Linked DNA regions of Homo sapiens. The protein of the gene in region 2 binds, or shares a complex with, the protein of the main gene of each other region. Each region holds a gene or a part of one and is shown on either strand. Other genes may lie near its edges.

Evidence for each region. The genes of interacting proteins can lie anywhere in the genome.
Region 1: RBBP4 (region 2) and BPTF share a complex: the UniProt entries of both Homo sapiens proteins name them as parts of the BPFT-SMARCA1 complex.
Region 3: RBBP4 (region 2) and TFDP1 share a complex: the UniProt entries of both Homo sapiens proteins name them as parts of the DREAM complex.
Region 4: RBBP4 (region 2) and TFDP2 share a complex: the UniProt entries of both Homo sapiens proteins name them as parts of the DREAM complex.

Annotation. Positions count from the first base shown.
Region 1 is NC_000017.11:67,940,235-67,944,553, reverse strand, and holds part of BPTF (nucleosome-remodeling factor subunit BPTF), read right to left. Parts: intron 4,116-4,319; coding exon 3,898-4,115; intron 405-3,897; coding exon 182-404; coding exon of another isoform or gene 70-181; intron 1-69. UniProt on the Homo sapiens protein: Regulatory subunit of the ATP-dependent NURF-1 and NURF-5 ISWI chromatin remodeling complexes, which form ordered nucleosome arrays on chromatin and facilitate access to DNA during DNA-templated processes such as DNA replication, transcription, and repair.
Region 2 is NC_000001.11:32,681,790-32,684,860, reverse strand, and holds part of RBBP4 (histone-binding protein RBBP4), read right to left. Parts: coding exon of another isoform or gene 3,001-3,071; 3' UTR 1,076-3,000; coding exon of another isoform or gene 772-1,075; 3' UTR 604-771; coding exon of another isoform or gene 479-603; 3' UTR 1-478. Other genes in the region: SYNC (syncoilin), read left to right, coding at 479-603, 772-1,075. UniProt on the Homo sapiens protein: Core histone-binding subunit that may target chromatin assembly factors, chromatin remodeling factors and histone deacetylases to their histone substrates in a manner that is regulated by nucleosomal DNA.
Region 3 is NC_000013.11:113,636,485-113,639,913, reverse strand, and holds part of TFDP1 (transcription factor Dp-1), read right to left. Parts: intron 3,381-3,429; coding exon 3,214-3,380; intron 2,295-3,213; coding exon of another isoform or gene 2,097-2,294; coding exon 2,018-2,096; intron 1-2,017. UniProt on the Homo sapiens protein: Can stimulate E2F-dependent transcription.
Region 4 is NC_000003.12:141,949,994-141,954,312, forward strand, and holds part of TFDP2 (transcription factor Dp-2), read right to left. Parts: intron 3,024-4,319; coding exon 2,918-3,023; intron 2,704-2,917; coding exon 2,520-2,703; 3' UTR 1-2,519. UniProt on the Homo sapiens protein: Can stimulate E2F-dependent transcription.

The DNA.
Region 1 (4,319 bases), on a different chromosome or scaffold from region 2:
AGTCTGTAAGAATAGGGTACAAAAGCTTCGAGACGTTGTGAGGCTGACTATGTCAACTGTTGAGGTCACTGGCTTGAGGCATATCCTTCCAAAGGTAAATACTGGTTCTCCTGTTGGCCTCTGTTAGCCCAGCCACGTGTAGTAGTAACATCCGACATTTCCGATAAACCCACAGCTCTACCTGCTGCTGTCGTGGAAACAGTGGTGGTGGTGGTGCTGGCTGTGGTGGCTGTTGTTGCCAATGGGGTAAAGAGGAATCGCTGAACAGTACCATTTGGCATTGCAGCTTGCATTAGCTGCTGGCCTGGGCCTGGGAGTACAGTCACCCCTTGAGGTATCAACTGCAACTGTCCAGTAGTTTGACCTTGTCCTTGAATTACTACTGTCAAACCTTGATTGCCACCCTGTGGAAAAAACACAACATGTAAACAGTGTTCAAAGCATCAATCTGTATGTATATCATTTTTATTAAATCATTTTTATGTGTAATTATCTTTTAATATAATGAAAATACATATTTGAATGTCACCAGCAGGAATTTAGATAAGCTAAAGTAAGAATATTTATGTTGCTTAGTAGGAAAAACATCAACAATCCAGAGTTCCAGTTCAAGCTCCCCCAATGGTCAGCCAGTTATCTGTCCACAAGCAACACTGTTCCTCCAGATCCAAGTTTCCCAATCTATAAAATAAAGGTATTGAATAACTAAAGTCCCCACAAAATTCTGATTTTAAATAATCTTATATTCATATTTTACAATTTCAAAAGCATCTTCATAGATACTGCCTCATTTGATTCTCACAATGGACTTGTGACTTTATGGGGTAGGCAGAGAAAATATTCTTCTGATTCCCAACTAAGAAACTCAGGTTAGAAAGGTCAAGTACCCTGGCCAACTTAAAGGTGAGATAAAAGAAGGAACCTAGATCTCCTGAATTTTGTCTTTCAATACGTGCCAAATTACCTATGGGGTGTGTGTGTGCTAAACTGTAAAAAGCTTAGGGTTTTAGATATGTAATGCAAACACCAAGTAAGGAGGATCACTAAGGTCTGAGCAGTTACCAAAAAGGGGTCCAGAAATTTAAAATTCTCTAGGCGCTCTCTCTTCTGTCCAGAACTGTAATTCAACTAGAAACCCTGAATACCAGGAACATGCTGGAGAACTGGAAAGCAAAAGTAAAAACCATCCCCTAAACTCCCAATGACCAAAACTGATGGCGCAAAGTCCATGTACTAAGTAAGCTCCATATACATGTGAATCCCTCAAAACTTATTTACTCTTGCTTTTCTAAAATACATTTTTTATGCACAAAATGCACAAAACACCAAGTATAATTTAAAAATTATAAAGTAAACATCTATAAAACCGCCACTGTGGTCACCATTGCCAGTGTCCTAGAAGTCCCCATATGACTCACCCGGATTTCAATTCCCTCCCTCTCCCCTAGAGGTAAGCACTATCCTCACTTTGATGATAACACTGTATTTCATTACTACTTCGGTATGTATCTTAGGTATATATAAGGCCACTGAGGTTCACAAACTCAGGAGCAATATTCACAAAGAATACAATGGGAATAGTGCCCCCTCCAGGCAGGCAATGCAGCAGCCCTGTATCCCTACACAAAATAGCTTAGTTTTGCCTATTTCTGAATCTTATACAAATGAAATTATAACATGTATTTTTTTTGGCAGCTACTTGCTTCTTTAGCTTACCATTATATATTTGTGAGAATCATCTGCATAGTTCTGTGTGGCTGAAGTCTATTCATTTTTATTGCTGTAGGAATATACTACAATTTACTTAGCTAACTGATTTTGATAGACACCTGAGTTGTTCTTAGTTTTTGATTCTTATGAACAATGCTGCTACCAATATTTATGCCATGTATTCTGGTGCTCACATGGCCAACAACTTCTCTAGGGATATACCTAGAAGGTATACTGGGACCTTGGGCATACACAGCTTTGACTTTACCAGACCATGTCCAGGAAGTTTCCAAAATGGCTGAACCGACTGATAGGCCCACCAGCTGTGCATGAGAATTCTTTCTGCTCTATGTCTTTGCTAACTCTTGGTTTTGTTGGACATTTAAATTTGTACCAATCTCTTAAGCATATGGTTTTAATATGTACTTCTCTCATTATTAATAAAGTTCAGCAGTTTTTTGGAATTTGGGACATTTAGATTTCTTCTTTCCTCATAATGTTGGTTTGTCCTTTTTTTTTTGTTTTTCTTTTTTTTGAGACGGAGTCTGTTGCCTAGGTTGGAGTGCAGTGGTATATCTTGGCTCGCTGCAACCTCTGCTTCTTGGGTTCAAGCAATTCTCCTGCCTCAGCCTCCCAAGCAGCTGGGATTACAGGCGTACACCACCACGCCTGACTAATTTTTGTATTTTTAGTAGAAACGGGGTTTCCCCATGTTGGCCAGGCTGGTCTGAAACTCCTGACCTCAAGTGATCCACCTGGCTTGGCCTCCCAAAACCTTGGCCCCCCAAAGTGCTGGGATTACAGGTGTGAGCCACCGCACCTTGCCTGTTTGTCTTTTTTCCTATTGATCTATCTGGATTTTTTTCTTTCTTGATTTGTAGTAATTCTTTATATATTCTGGATATGTAATAGTCCTTGGTTGGTTCTTTTCTCATTTTCTTCACTCTCTCTGTAGTGAGTTTGATGAACAGAGGTTCTTACTCTTATTTTTAAAGTAGTTGAATTTATAAATCTTTTCATTTATGGTTAGCATTTTCTATCTGTTTAGGAAAGCTATGAAGATATTCTTCTATCTTCTAAAGGTATTATAGTTTTACCTTTCACAGTTAGGACTTTCATCCTCCTGGAATTGAGTTTATGTAGAGTGAGGTAATAATGGTCCAATTTCACAGTTTCCCATGTATATTCAATTGTCCTGGCACCATTTACTGAAAAGTCATCTCTTCCTCAATGATCTGCAATGTCACCTTTGTCATATAACAAGTGTCCACATACATGGGGTTCATGTTCTGCACTCTCTACTGTTCTGTTGGTCTATCTGCCTCTCCTTATGTCTGTACCTCACTATATTAATTAGTGAAGTATTATATACTAAGTTTTTTGGTTTTTTTTAGATGAAGTCTTGCTTTGTCACCCAGGCTGGAATGCAGTGGTGCAATCTCAGCTCACTACAACCTCCGCCTCCCAGGTTCAAGCAATTCTCCTTCCTCAGCCTCCTGAGTAGCTGTGATTACAAGCGCATGCCACCACGCCCAGCTAATTTGTTTGTACTTTTAGCAGAGATGGAATTTCACCATGTTGGTCAGGCTGGTCTCAGACTCCTGACCTCAAGCAATCCACCCGCCCTGGCCTCCCAAAGTGCTGGGATTACAGGCGCAAGCCACCATGCCCAGCCTATACTAAGTTTTGATATCAAGTTATCATATATAGGGCAAATAATCCTGTTCTTCAAAGGTACAGATATTCTTAATACTTTGTACCTCCATATAAACTTTCAGTATCAGCTTGTGAAGTTTCACTAAAAACAAAACCTCTTGGGATTTTGATGGGAGCTGCATTCAATTTATTAATCAATATTAGAAGACTTGCTAACAATATCGAGTCTTGCAAGGAAGCAGCTTAATGTACTCAAATTTTATTTGTCTCATGGAGATTAGCCAACTAATAAAATTTTGGTGTTTAAAAGGGTTATCTGTCTCACTGTTTTAGCTCACTGTCTAAAGATTACTCTAGTAGTTGGGGTTTATTATATCCTGTCTAAGAGGTATTTCTGCTTGACTCCAGGAAGCAACCATTTCTTCAAATCAGCACATTTAAAAACGTATCAAAATAAGTTCATGTTTTTAAACTTACCGCAAGAATAAATAAGATCACCTCTAAAGTTAAAATAAAGCTTATGTTACTTACGTGGCCCTGTGTTAACTGAGTAAGTTGAGCCATGGTGAGCTTCACTTGTCCTTGTTGGGGGCGAGGGGGTTGTGAGGCTGAAGACTGTATATTTGAAGTGGACGTTGCTGAAGTTAAGCTTTTCTGCCCAGGTGTTGAGGAAACCGTGTTAGGGGCGGAGACTGCAGTGGAGACAGGCTGCCCCCTGATGATTTGAGTCATCACTTGCTGAGGAGCACCTACCCAAACAGCAAAACATTATGAATGCTTATACACCCTTGGCATTATTTTGAATTGAAATAATTCAACACCTCACATGAACGTATTCTTTTCCATCTTCAAAAAAACACTGGGATATTCAGAGCCTAAGGATACATTCAGACATATACCCACATCCAAAGGTCCTGCCTGGTTGGCAGTGAGTCTGTTTTCACTGCCAACCG
Region 2 (3,071 bases):
GGACTTCCACTAGTTGTGTAACTCTCCTAGAATTCTAGCCAATATTTAATAATTGTTGCCACACTTTTGTATTTCAACTTAAGTATTTTATATTATTAAAAACTACCAATTATCTTAACAAACCTGCACATGGAGGGAGAGGTATATGAAACTCAGCCCACTAACTAGACCAAAATCCTCCTCAATGACACTAAGGTTGTAATACTAAAAAGTCCCAATCACCCTCCCAGGATTCTATTAAAGCAAGCTGTGGTTAACAGACAAGATGCCTTTTTCGTCATCATTTTCAAAAGCATTGTCACTTTTTTTCCAAGACACAACTTCTTTGAACCTGTTTCATAACCTATCATATAAATACCAGCCTCAATACTGCTATCAAGATTAAACAATGAACAAAAAAGTGTTTTATAAGTAAGAGTGGACAATGTGAGTTTTTATTGTTTGGCTCATTAGAAATGTTCTTGGCCATCTCATGCAGGAACAGCTGGAGGAAATGGAAGAACGCCAGAGGCAGTTAAGAAATGGGGTGCAACTCCAGCAACAGAAGAACAAAGAGATGGAACAGCTAAGGCTCAGTCTTGCTGAAGAGCTCTCTACTTATAAGTCAGTTTCTGCTGCTATACAAATCTCATCTAATACTGGCTGAGGGGATGGTGGGAGGGCTTAGGGAAAATTTTACCTTAGAATCAAAAACAAAAAGAGGATTTGGGAAATGATTTTCAAATTGTGCTTATCCAAAAACACATGGAAAATGGCTCTCTCTTTTTAAAGGGCTATGCTACTACCCAAGAGCCTGGAACAGGCTGATGCTCCCACTTCTCAGGCAGGTGGAATGGAGACACAGTCTCAAGGTGATCTTTGTGAAGAGAAGAGTGGTGTTTGCATTGTTACTGCTTTCCTAACAATACTAATTAATGCCTTAAAAACAGGCCGGACGGGGTGGCTCACGCCTGTAATCCTAGCACTTTGGGAGGCTGAGGAGGGTGGATCACCTGGAGTCAGGAGTTCAAGACCAGCCTGGCCAACATGGCAAAACTCCATCTCCACTAAAAATACAAAAATTAGCCGGGCATAGTGGCAGGCACTTATAATCCCAGCTACTCAGGAGGCCAAGGCAGGAGAATCGCTTGAACCAGGAGGCAGAGGTTGCAGTGAGTCAAGATCACAATACAGCACTCCAGCTTGTACAACAGAGTGAGACTGCCTCAAAACAAAACAAAAACCCAAAAAACAAAAACAACAAAAAACCCTTGTGTGCCTAATGACAAGGGGATAACCCAAACCTCCAAAACGCCTGAGTCAGGCATTCAGAGTTCATTTGGAATGTTTGTTTCTAGTAGGACTCAAAATATGCCCTGATTATCACCATGAATTCTGTGGCATCTAGGCTTTGGGCATCTTGTTTCCTCATCCTACCCTACCCACCTGCTATTCTCAGTTTTCCTTATAATAGCAGAGAAAGCAGTTGTGCTATCAAAAATAATAAACATATCTATCCATTAAGTTCCTTATATAATATTCAAAGGCTGTGGTTTTGGGTGGAAGCAGAGATGTTCATGTTACACAGACTTACTCTTTTTTTTTTTTTTTTTTTTTGAGACGGAGTCTTGCTCTGTTGCCAGGCTGGAGTGCAGTGGCGTGACCTCTGCCTCCCGGGTTCAAGCGATTCCCCTGCCTCAGCCTCCCAAGTAGCTGGGATTATAGGCACGCACCACCACGCCTGGCTAATTTTTTTGTATTTTAGTAGAGACGGGGTTTCACCATGTTGGCTAAGATGGTCTCATCTCCTGACCTTGTGATCCACTTGCCTCGGCCTCCCAGAGTGCTGGGATTTCAGGTGTGAGCCACCATGCTTGGCCTAAACAGACTTAACTTTTAGACACTGACAAAACTGAAGGCATCTTTCTGACCAATCACCTACTCAGGATCCCTCCCCCAATGTTTTACCAGTATATTCTGATAAAAGTTCTAGAGTCCGTGAAAGAAACTAAGGATAAAAGAAAGTCCGTGTCAAGTTGTACATTATACAGATGCCTATAAATTTTATTCATTTCCTAAGCTTACATCAAATTCACAACTTTCTTTTTTTTTTGAGACAGTCTCGCTCTGCCACCCAGGCTGGAGTGCAGTGGCACGGTCTCAGTTCACTGCAACCTCCACCTCCTGGGTTCAAGTGATTTTCCTGCCTCAGCCTCCTGAGTAGCTGGGACTACAGGAGCATGCCACCACGGCCAGCTAGTTTTTGTATTTTTAGTAGAAACGGGGTTTCACCATCTTGGCCAGGCTGGTCTTGAACTCCTGACCTTGTGATCCACGTGCCTCAGCCTCTCAAAGTGCTGGGATTACAGGCGTGAACCACCGCGCCTGGCCCACAAGTAACTATTGTTGCTTTTTCTAATTTTCTAGGATTTTATTTTTTTAAATTTCTTTTTAGTAGAGATGGGGGGTCGGGTCTTGCTATTTTGCCCAGGCTGGAGTAGTGGCACGATCTTGGCTCACTGCAACTCTGCCTCCTGGGTTCAAACAATACTCCTGCCTCAGCCTGCTAAGTAGCTGGGATTACAGGCATAAGCCATCACACCCAGCCTTGAGGATTTTCTTATACTGTGTTTGAATCCACATGACTGATAATATGCTTAATGTTTGAGAAATTATAACCTTGCAATTGAGGTTAATGATCTACTAACTACCTTTGTGTTGATCAGATTGTGTACAATCTGGAAAAGACAACGACTAATCCAAAGAAATGAAACTACAGAATTTCAGGCATTGTAATTATACCTGTAAGAAGTTAACCTAGCAGAGAAAACGTTTAACTATCCCTCCCATCACCATCACCATTCATTCTATTTGACAAACAGGAGGCATCCAAATATTTGCTAGGGGAAAGTCATCCCTGATCATCCATAAATCACACTGTAACAATCTCTTCTCAACAAAGCCTGCAGTAACTAAACCTCAGAAGTTCACTGTTATAAACTTTTTCTTTCAACTTTACAGGGGCTGTTTAGAAATATATGGCCAAATCTGTAACCCGGAAACAGCAAAAAACTTCTTAGCAAAGGATCACT
Region 3 (3,429 bases), on a different chromosome or scaffold from region 2:
CCTGTCTCCTGGAACCCATAACGACAGAAACAGGAGGCTGAGCAGAGCCACACGCTGCCTCTCCCTCACTCATCATTCCATCAGGAGCAGTGCCCCAGAGGGAACAAACTGTAAAACCATTAGATCCCTCCCTCCGGGACTTTCACTCATAACCAGCAACAGGAAAAAAGAGAGCCCGGGGCAGGACAGGATGGAGTCCAGAGCGTGGGTCGAATCTGGCAGCGGGGACTGAGAACCCAGAGGGCTGGCAGCACCACAAAAACCTACCACCAACCAGAGCTCACTACGTTCCTAATGTTTAAAGATGTTTTCAATTAACATAAAACCATATGTACATATTTTAATACATTTTAATGGTATTTATTAACACTACAATAAAAATGTGTTAATGTGCCTTTTGATGAAGTAATTCTGTATCTTGGAAACAAGTCAGAAATGGCGAGAAATTCAGCTGTAAAGCTGCTCACTGCAGTTTTTATTCTAACTGGGAACTACCTAGATGTCCTTTCATGAGGTACTTGTATAAAATGTCTCATCATGCCACTATGAAAATCGGTATTTCGTAAGAAATGGTAATAGCTTTGTTTCCATTGTTATGAAAAACTGACAAGTCTGAAGAATCACATCCATAAAAAGGATTATGTGATGATAAAAGTCCTAAAAATACCCACATCCCACCTCATGGAAGAAGCAGCATTAAACATGTTTACAGACTGACCGCCACACGTTCACACATAGCTACAACAGAAGGAGAACCGGCCTCTGTCAAAAGCTTGTCACCAAAGTCCTTTCTTCCATCACCACCTCACTGATCCTTGCCACAGATCAGTAACTCATCAATCACCAGTCTCACCTTACAGGTGAGGAGGCCAAGGCTGGCTTTGCACTTCCAGAGCTGGCCAGGAAGCTACACGTGCCCGACACACCTGTTACATCTCATGGCCACAGCACATCCCAACGCAGGCTCAAGCACACTGAAACTCACTATGTCGAGCCCTGTTACCCGGACCCATAGGTTACTGAGTTCTTGTATTTCTAATTAAAGATTTTATTAACACTTAAGATTAATATAAAGTAATACTATATATTGTATCACAATGCAATATAAAAGTTAATAAAATCATTGTTTTGTTAATATTTACCATAAAAGTTATATTTATCTTTGAAGCACTAAGATCAATACCTAGGGACACCATTCTACTCTGTGGGATTGCAGGTCAAAGATTAAATACAAATTTATTTAAATAAAGGCCCTTTAATAGCATAGAAACAATATATATTCATACAATAAAATGTAAGCTGAAAAATGCACGGAACAAAATATGTGTGCTGTGACCACAGACGCGTTCTGAAAAATACGTGCGCTGTGATTGCAGACGCGTTCTGAAAAATACGTGTACCATAATCACAGACGCGTTCGCAAAAATACATGCACTGTGATCGCAGCACGTGCGCCGAGACCGCAGACGCGTTCTGAAAAACACGTGCGCCGTGATGGCAGACGTTCTGAAAAATACATGCGCTATGACCATAGATGCATTCTGAAAAACACATGCACCATGACCGCAGATGCGTTCTGAAAAATGTGTGCTGTGATCGCAGACACGTTCTGAAAACTACTTGCGCCCAGACCGCAGACGCGTTCTGAAAAATACGTGCGCTGTGACCGCAGACGCGTTCTGAAAAATGGGAAAAAAAACCTGGAAATACTTGCTGTTACTTGGGCTGCCGGGGACAGGAGGATTTGGGTGGTTTTCATTCCTACTTTACTTATTAGGTGATACTATGAAAAAAAAACCACCATGTATTACTTTCAGTTTTTAGTGAGCAGAAACCAACTAAGAAAAGCAGCTCTCCACACAGGGAAAGCCAGCGGGGCCCCACTGCCTGGACAGACAAGCCACGTCAGAGCAGCCACAGACCTGATGGCCACACCTGAGACGGCTGCCCTGCCTTGGCCCCTGGACCCCGGGGGAGGCCCAGATGACGCCTCTCCCACACCCTCAACGACTGTCACCTGGCAGAGAACCTTGTGCCGTTAGACGTGGAACCTGCCGTCGTGATGAACACGCCTCCAACAGTTCCCTGAGCCATTTCTGAAAAGGGAAAGAAAATAAGCGAATGGTCATGAAACAGAAACAACACAAGACGCACAGGCAACCAACAAAATGACGCGCAGTTCCACAGGACAGACGGCTGTAGAAGCTTCCGGATATCCTTCGCTTGTCCAGTATTTTCCACACTGCGCCACGGAGCAGGACATCCCGCTGTGCAGTCACATAAGCCTGTCTTCTCTAAAAAGGCAAGAACAGCCTTGCAATAAATACCTGCACACACTGACTTACAAACGGCACACGTGTGCTGCTGCCTCAGTATCATACCCATCGTGAAACGGAACCGAATCAAAGTGTCAAGCTGAAACCCTCTTCCCACAGCCCATCCTGGCAGCTCCATGAAGCACGGGACAGAGGCCGGGGTCAGGGCCCAGCCCACGTGGGCGGCCAGAGCCCACTGTCACCTGACAACATGGACCAGCCAGATTTTCACAAGATCTGGGGCAGTCTAAGAGCTCAGGGAGGAATCTCTGACCCTCTCAGGGAATAAATCTACACCCCAAGTTTAGGCTAACAAGAGAAGGATCAGCAGATATGACACCTTCACAATTTCTCACCTTAAAGCCATCCTGCTGTCAGTGGCTGGGACCCTACGGCCCCCAAGGAAAGAATTCACCAGAACAGAAAAAAAGCTCCTTCAACAAAAGCTCCTGTGCTCCCGGCCCTCCGGAGCAGGACGCCAATGACTCTGAAATGCTTTTTCTTGGTGACTTTGCCCTAGTGACCAATCAGCTACCATCAGTGGGTGGGATCAGCAATCCAACTGCACTTCTCAAAGAATCTCAACTTCTACTTCTGGGCCTACTTGGAGGGTAAAATCCTGACTTAGCACCTCCTCACACAAACCACATAGGAAATCCACACGAGCCACCTGTGGACTCAAGGCCCCCATATCCAGTGGGTCACGGCACTGGCTGGACCCCACCCCAGCCACACCCCTGCCCTCATCCCCCTCACAGCCCCTTTGTCTTTGCTCCTGGCCCTACACACGTGGGCCTGATCTCAGCAAGACACATCCCGAGCCGGGAGGGGAGGGCACCGTCGGAGGCTGGGGGCCATTCCTCACACAGCCACGCCAGGTTGTCTGGGCATTGCTGACCTGTCACGTATGGCTCCAGAGCCTTGGGGACCAGACTTCTGGCCATTTTAAGGTCTTCGGCAGAGCAGCTCCCCGACTCCAGCCCGCAAGCCATGCCCATCCGCTTCAGCACTTCTATGTCATCGTGGATTTCAAATGTGTTGTCAAAATTAAACAGATACTCAAATCTGAAGGGGAAAGGCACAGTCAGAAAGACAGGGTCTCCCAGCGGAGACG
Region 4 (4,319 bases), on a different chromosome or scaffold from region 2:
ACAGGGTTTTGTCATGTTGCCCAGGCTGGTCTTGAACTCCTGAGCTCAAGCAATGTGCCCGCCTCGGCCTCCCAAAGTGCTACGATTACAGGCGAGAGGCACTGCACCCAGCCCATGGTTTCCTAACACTGCCTCACTTTGATCTTGTGTGAAATTGTGACTCAGTGCTGAGCTTTAGACCCAGATAAATGTTGAGGGGGAATACAGAAGAGAATTGACCTTTCTGAACAGCTCAACCTAGTTTCTAAAGGCAAGATTTTACTCCAGCGACATGTACTGGTGACCATGATGTCACTCTGTGAGCTGGCCTCACCAGTAACCCAAACACAACGCTGAGGAAGGAGACCATTTCCCACCAACAGCACACACCTATGGCTGGGGTGGCCAATGATGGGGCACCAATAAGGATAAGAGTCTTTGGCGGCTTTCTTTTTTTGAGCCCATATTTTATCAATTTAAAGCATGAGAGCAGCAGAGATGGAGAGTAGAGAAAAAAACAGGTTTCCCAAGAACTCTGGCAAGAATGTTGCTACTTGGTGAAGGAATGGTTATCATTAGTGCACCTGTCTTAAATCCTGAAATGCATCTTGGGACCTGCAGTTCAATATTTTGAAGACTACAAAGGTAGCAGTGGCTGTTGGCCTCTCCAGGTCCCTGCTGGGTCCCAGAGATGAGAAAGGGTGGAGTTAGTAAAAGAGGAGGCTGCCCCTTAAAGGACAGTTTGGTTTGGAGGGAAATCCCAATCCGTGCAGCTGAAAGATTCCCTGCAGGCCCCTGGGGACCTGCTGTCACCTCCCCAGTGTTCCTGACTGGTCTGAGAGGTGTGCTCCAGAACCCACGATAAGACCGAGTTCTCTAGAAACTGCCTCTATCTCTGAGTCTGTACTATGGCTTATTTCTGACAGAATGAAACTTTTGTATCAAAGGAGCTTCAGCTAAAGTTGAATGTTTTTCTTTCTCAGTTTTTATGGCCTTATTAAACATGTTTAGCTAGCCAAAGCTTCCTCCTCCTCACCATGCTCAGTGTTAGCATGGTGGTGAGGCTATAAAGAGGCACCACAGGAAGGAGCCTGCACTTCCCCCATGGGATTTAAAAAAGAACCAATTTGGGCCATGCTTGGTGCATCTAGCATAATCTTGGGACAAATCCACATGATTCAGGTCAAAGTTTTGGAGTTAATTCTCCCATTATTATTTGCTCCTTTCCAAAGCCTTAATGTGAAATTCAGTCAGGGTCTGGCCATGGTGGCAGGTGTCCCTACACTCTTTCATTCAGAGAAGGAGCAGCTGTGAATACACCACTGCAGTATTTCTAATGACATCTTGAGCCATAAACAACATAACTGCACTACCATATATCCAGGCAGTAGGAGTGTTCAACGTTTTCTAGTGTTTCTGTGAAACACTAAATATTGGATTAGTTTGAAATGCAATTGACCCCAGGAGTAGGCTCAATAAGGTCATTCTGATTAATGAAAATGTGAAAAAAGGTGACATGTACAAGGAAACACTGCTGTTCATATTCTTGAAATAGACTTTTCTTTAAGACAAAAGTAATGACATTTGGTTCATTTTCACAAATTGCACACTGGGTGAGATCATACAATTACTGCAGGGAACTGTAGGCAAGCAATTTGGTCATAGGAATTTGTTTCTTTGTCTTGTTTTAAATGAAAAAGCTATATGAAATGCATAGCTTTGATTAACCTAAAGATACAGTTTCCTTCTTTGTAAAACTCCAGATTTAGGATGCTGGCAAAGGCAGTGCTGGCAAAGTATTTAATGCACATGGAAATGCTATTCTATTTTGGCTTCCAGAAGTAGCCCTAGTAAATTCTATGCACCAATGCATTGGCTAATAATAATTTCAGTTTTACTATAAATTATCTAAATGTCACTTAAGTACTTAAGAAGTAGCGCTCGCTCCTTTCTAGAAGCTGTCTAAGGCAGCTGATGCGTAAAGCACCTCATCTAGACCTCCAACTAGTTCAGCAGTTCAATCTGTGCCCCTCAGCCACAGGACTGCCCTCAGTATCCCTCACTACACAGCTCCCCTCTCCTGGGGACTTTTCATGTTCATTTCTGCCTTGTCAAAGGCAGTCCAGGCAAGGAAGAGAAACGTCAGAAACACGATCGTCAAGGACTGCTCCGTGTAGCAATCTCAATTCTAAGAATAATTACATGGGTGTGAGGAACACAAAAATCCCACCTCACAGAAGATAAATGAGTTGCACTCACACTGCCAACTCTTCAGGGATTATCCCCACTATCTCCTCAGAAAGCATGCTTTCTTTGTTATATCATCTACTGCTCTGTTGGCCAGACTTTCATTCACACTATGTTAACTTTCATCTCAATCATCTCAGCCTTCATGTGATTTGCTTATTGTGTTTCTCTAGTTTTCACTGAACACACAGTGCAAACAAAGGCAAAGACTGAAGCAATCATTTCAAAAACAAGAGCTCACACTACAAACACACATGAGCATCACATATTGAAACGTAGGCTTTCTCTTGTCTTTATTCTGGGGAGGAGGAATCCTCCTCATCATCTTCCTCATCTTCATCATTGAACGAACAGGGGGTCTCGCCTCGGGACTCGGAGCAGTGAGAGGCCGCACTGCTGGACTGGTGACTGTTTGGGGCCAGGAACTGCCCAGTTGCTAAGGCCACTTCTGCATCCAAGCATAACCCTTGGTTTACACTAGCAAACAATTAAAAACACACAGGCTCATTAATGTGGTATAAACAGTTTTGTAAAACATAGGAATAAAAACAGGAAGGAGGTGCCATTGGTGAGATCTGCCACAAACCTGCTCAGCAGGACCTGTGCTGGCAGTAACATGACCCCGGCTCACCCCTACACAGACAGTCAGGGCTCTGGGGTTTGCCTTTCTAACCCTGAAAAAAATACGTACCTTGACTGGGGTAAGGTGGCACCAGTGGTCAGGTCTAAATTTGAAACTGATTGGGTAGAGTTCAGAAGTAGTCCCTGATTTAACCAAGAAGGTCCTGTGGAGATATCTAAAGGAAAAAATGAGAACAAAAAATGTCGGTCCTGCAAGTTCTGTGGCTGCTGTTGTTACAGTCTGAGGAAAGCACAGAAAAGCAAGAGCTAAGCTTATTCTTCATGACAGCTAGACAATTCTCTTGCTGTGACAAGAACCCAGGTTTCTTCATCTTCTTGGAAGAAAAAAAAATTTCTAGAACATAAGAGCAGGAAAAAAAAAATACGGGAAGGCAGCTTACGGAGAGAAGGTATTCAAATGAAAACACTCAAAGGCACTTTCTTACTCTTTTTCTTAGATAAGCCCTCCAGAGCACAGCCCATGGGATACATCCCAGTGTACCACCCTCAATGCCTTCTGCCCTCAGCACAAAAGACCTGGACTGTGGTGTTGAGAGCCAAAGCCAGAAGTGGGAAAAGAGAAAATCAAATCAGAAATACATGAGGTAAGAAGGCCACCCTGCTTAGAGGGCAGACAGACATGTTTTGGCCAAAACCCCCGCCGCAATGTCTTTTCAGGTGCCTGCTGCTGGTGAACTCAATGCTGCTACTCATCAAATATCTATTCTTTTTCCTGACAAGATTTTTCCTGGTGTCTGTTGCTTTCTAATTCAAACTAGCTCTTATTTTATTTTTTTTATTATTATTATACTTTAAGTTTTAGGGTACATGTGCACAATGTGCAGGTTAGTTACATATGTATACATGTGCCATGCTGGTGTGCTGCACCGATTAACTCGTCATTTAGCATTAGGTATATCTCCTAATGCTATCCCTCCCCCCTCCCCCCACCCCACAACTAGCTCTTATTTTAAAAAGGTCACATGCAGTCATGTTTTTAATGAGGCAGACACAGACGTTACTGTTTTAGTCTACAGAAAATAGTTTGGGCTGAGCACGGTGGCTCACGCCTATAATCCCAGCATTTTGGGAGGCCAAGGAGGGCGGATCACCTGAAGTTGGGAGTTCTGTCCAACATGGAGAAACCCCATCTCTATTAAAAATACAAAATTAGCTGGGCGTTGTGGTGCATGCCTGTAATCCTAGCTACTCGGGAGGCTGAGGCAGGAGAATCACTTGAACCCGGGAGGCGGAGGTTGCAGTGAGCTGAGATTGCACCACTGCACTCCAGCCTGGGCAACAAGAGCGAAACTCCATCTCAAAAAATAAAAGAAAAAAAGAAAAGAAAATATTTTGGATATCTCCTTGCCATCTTCTTTTCTATACATATACCACATTTATCCTATGACAACACTGATCAATTCTTATTGTAATTTTACTGGTTTAATACTTTTTATCTTCCCATCTACAGT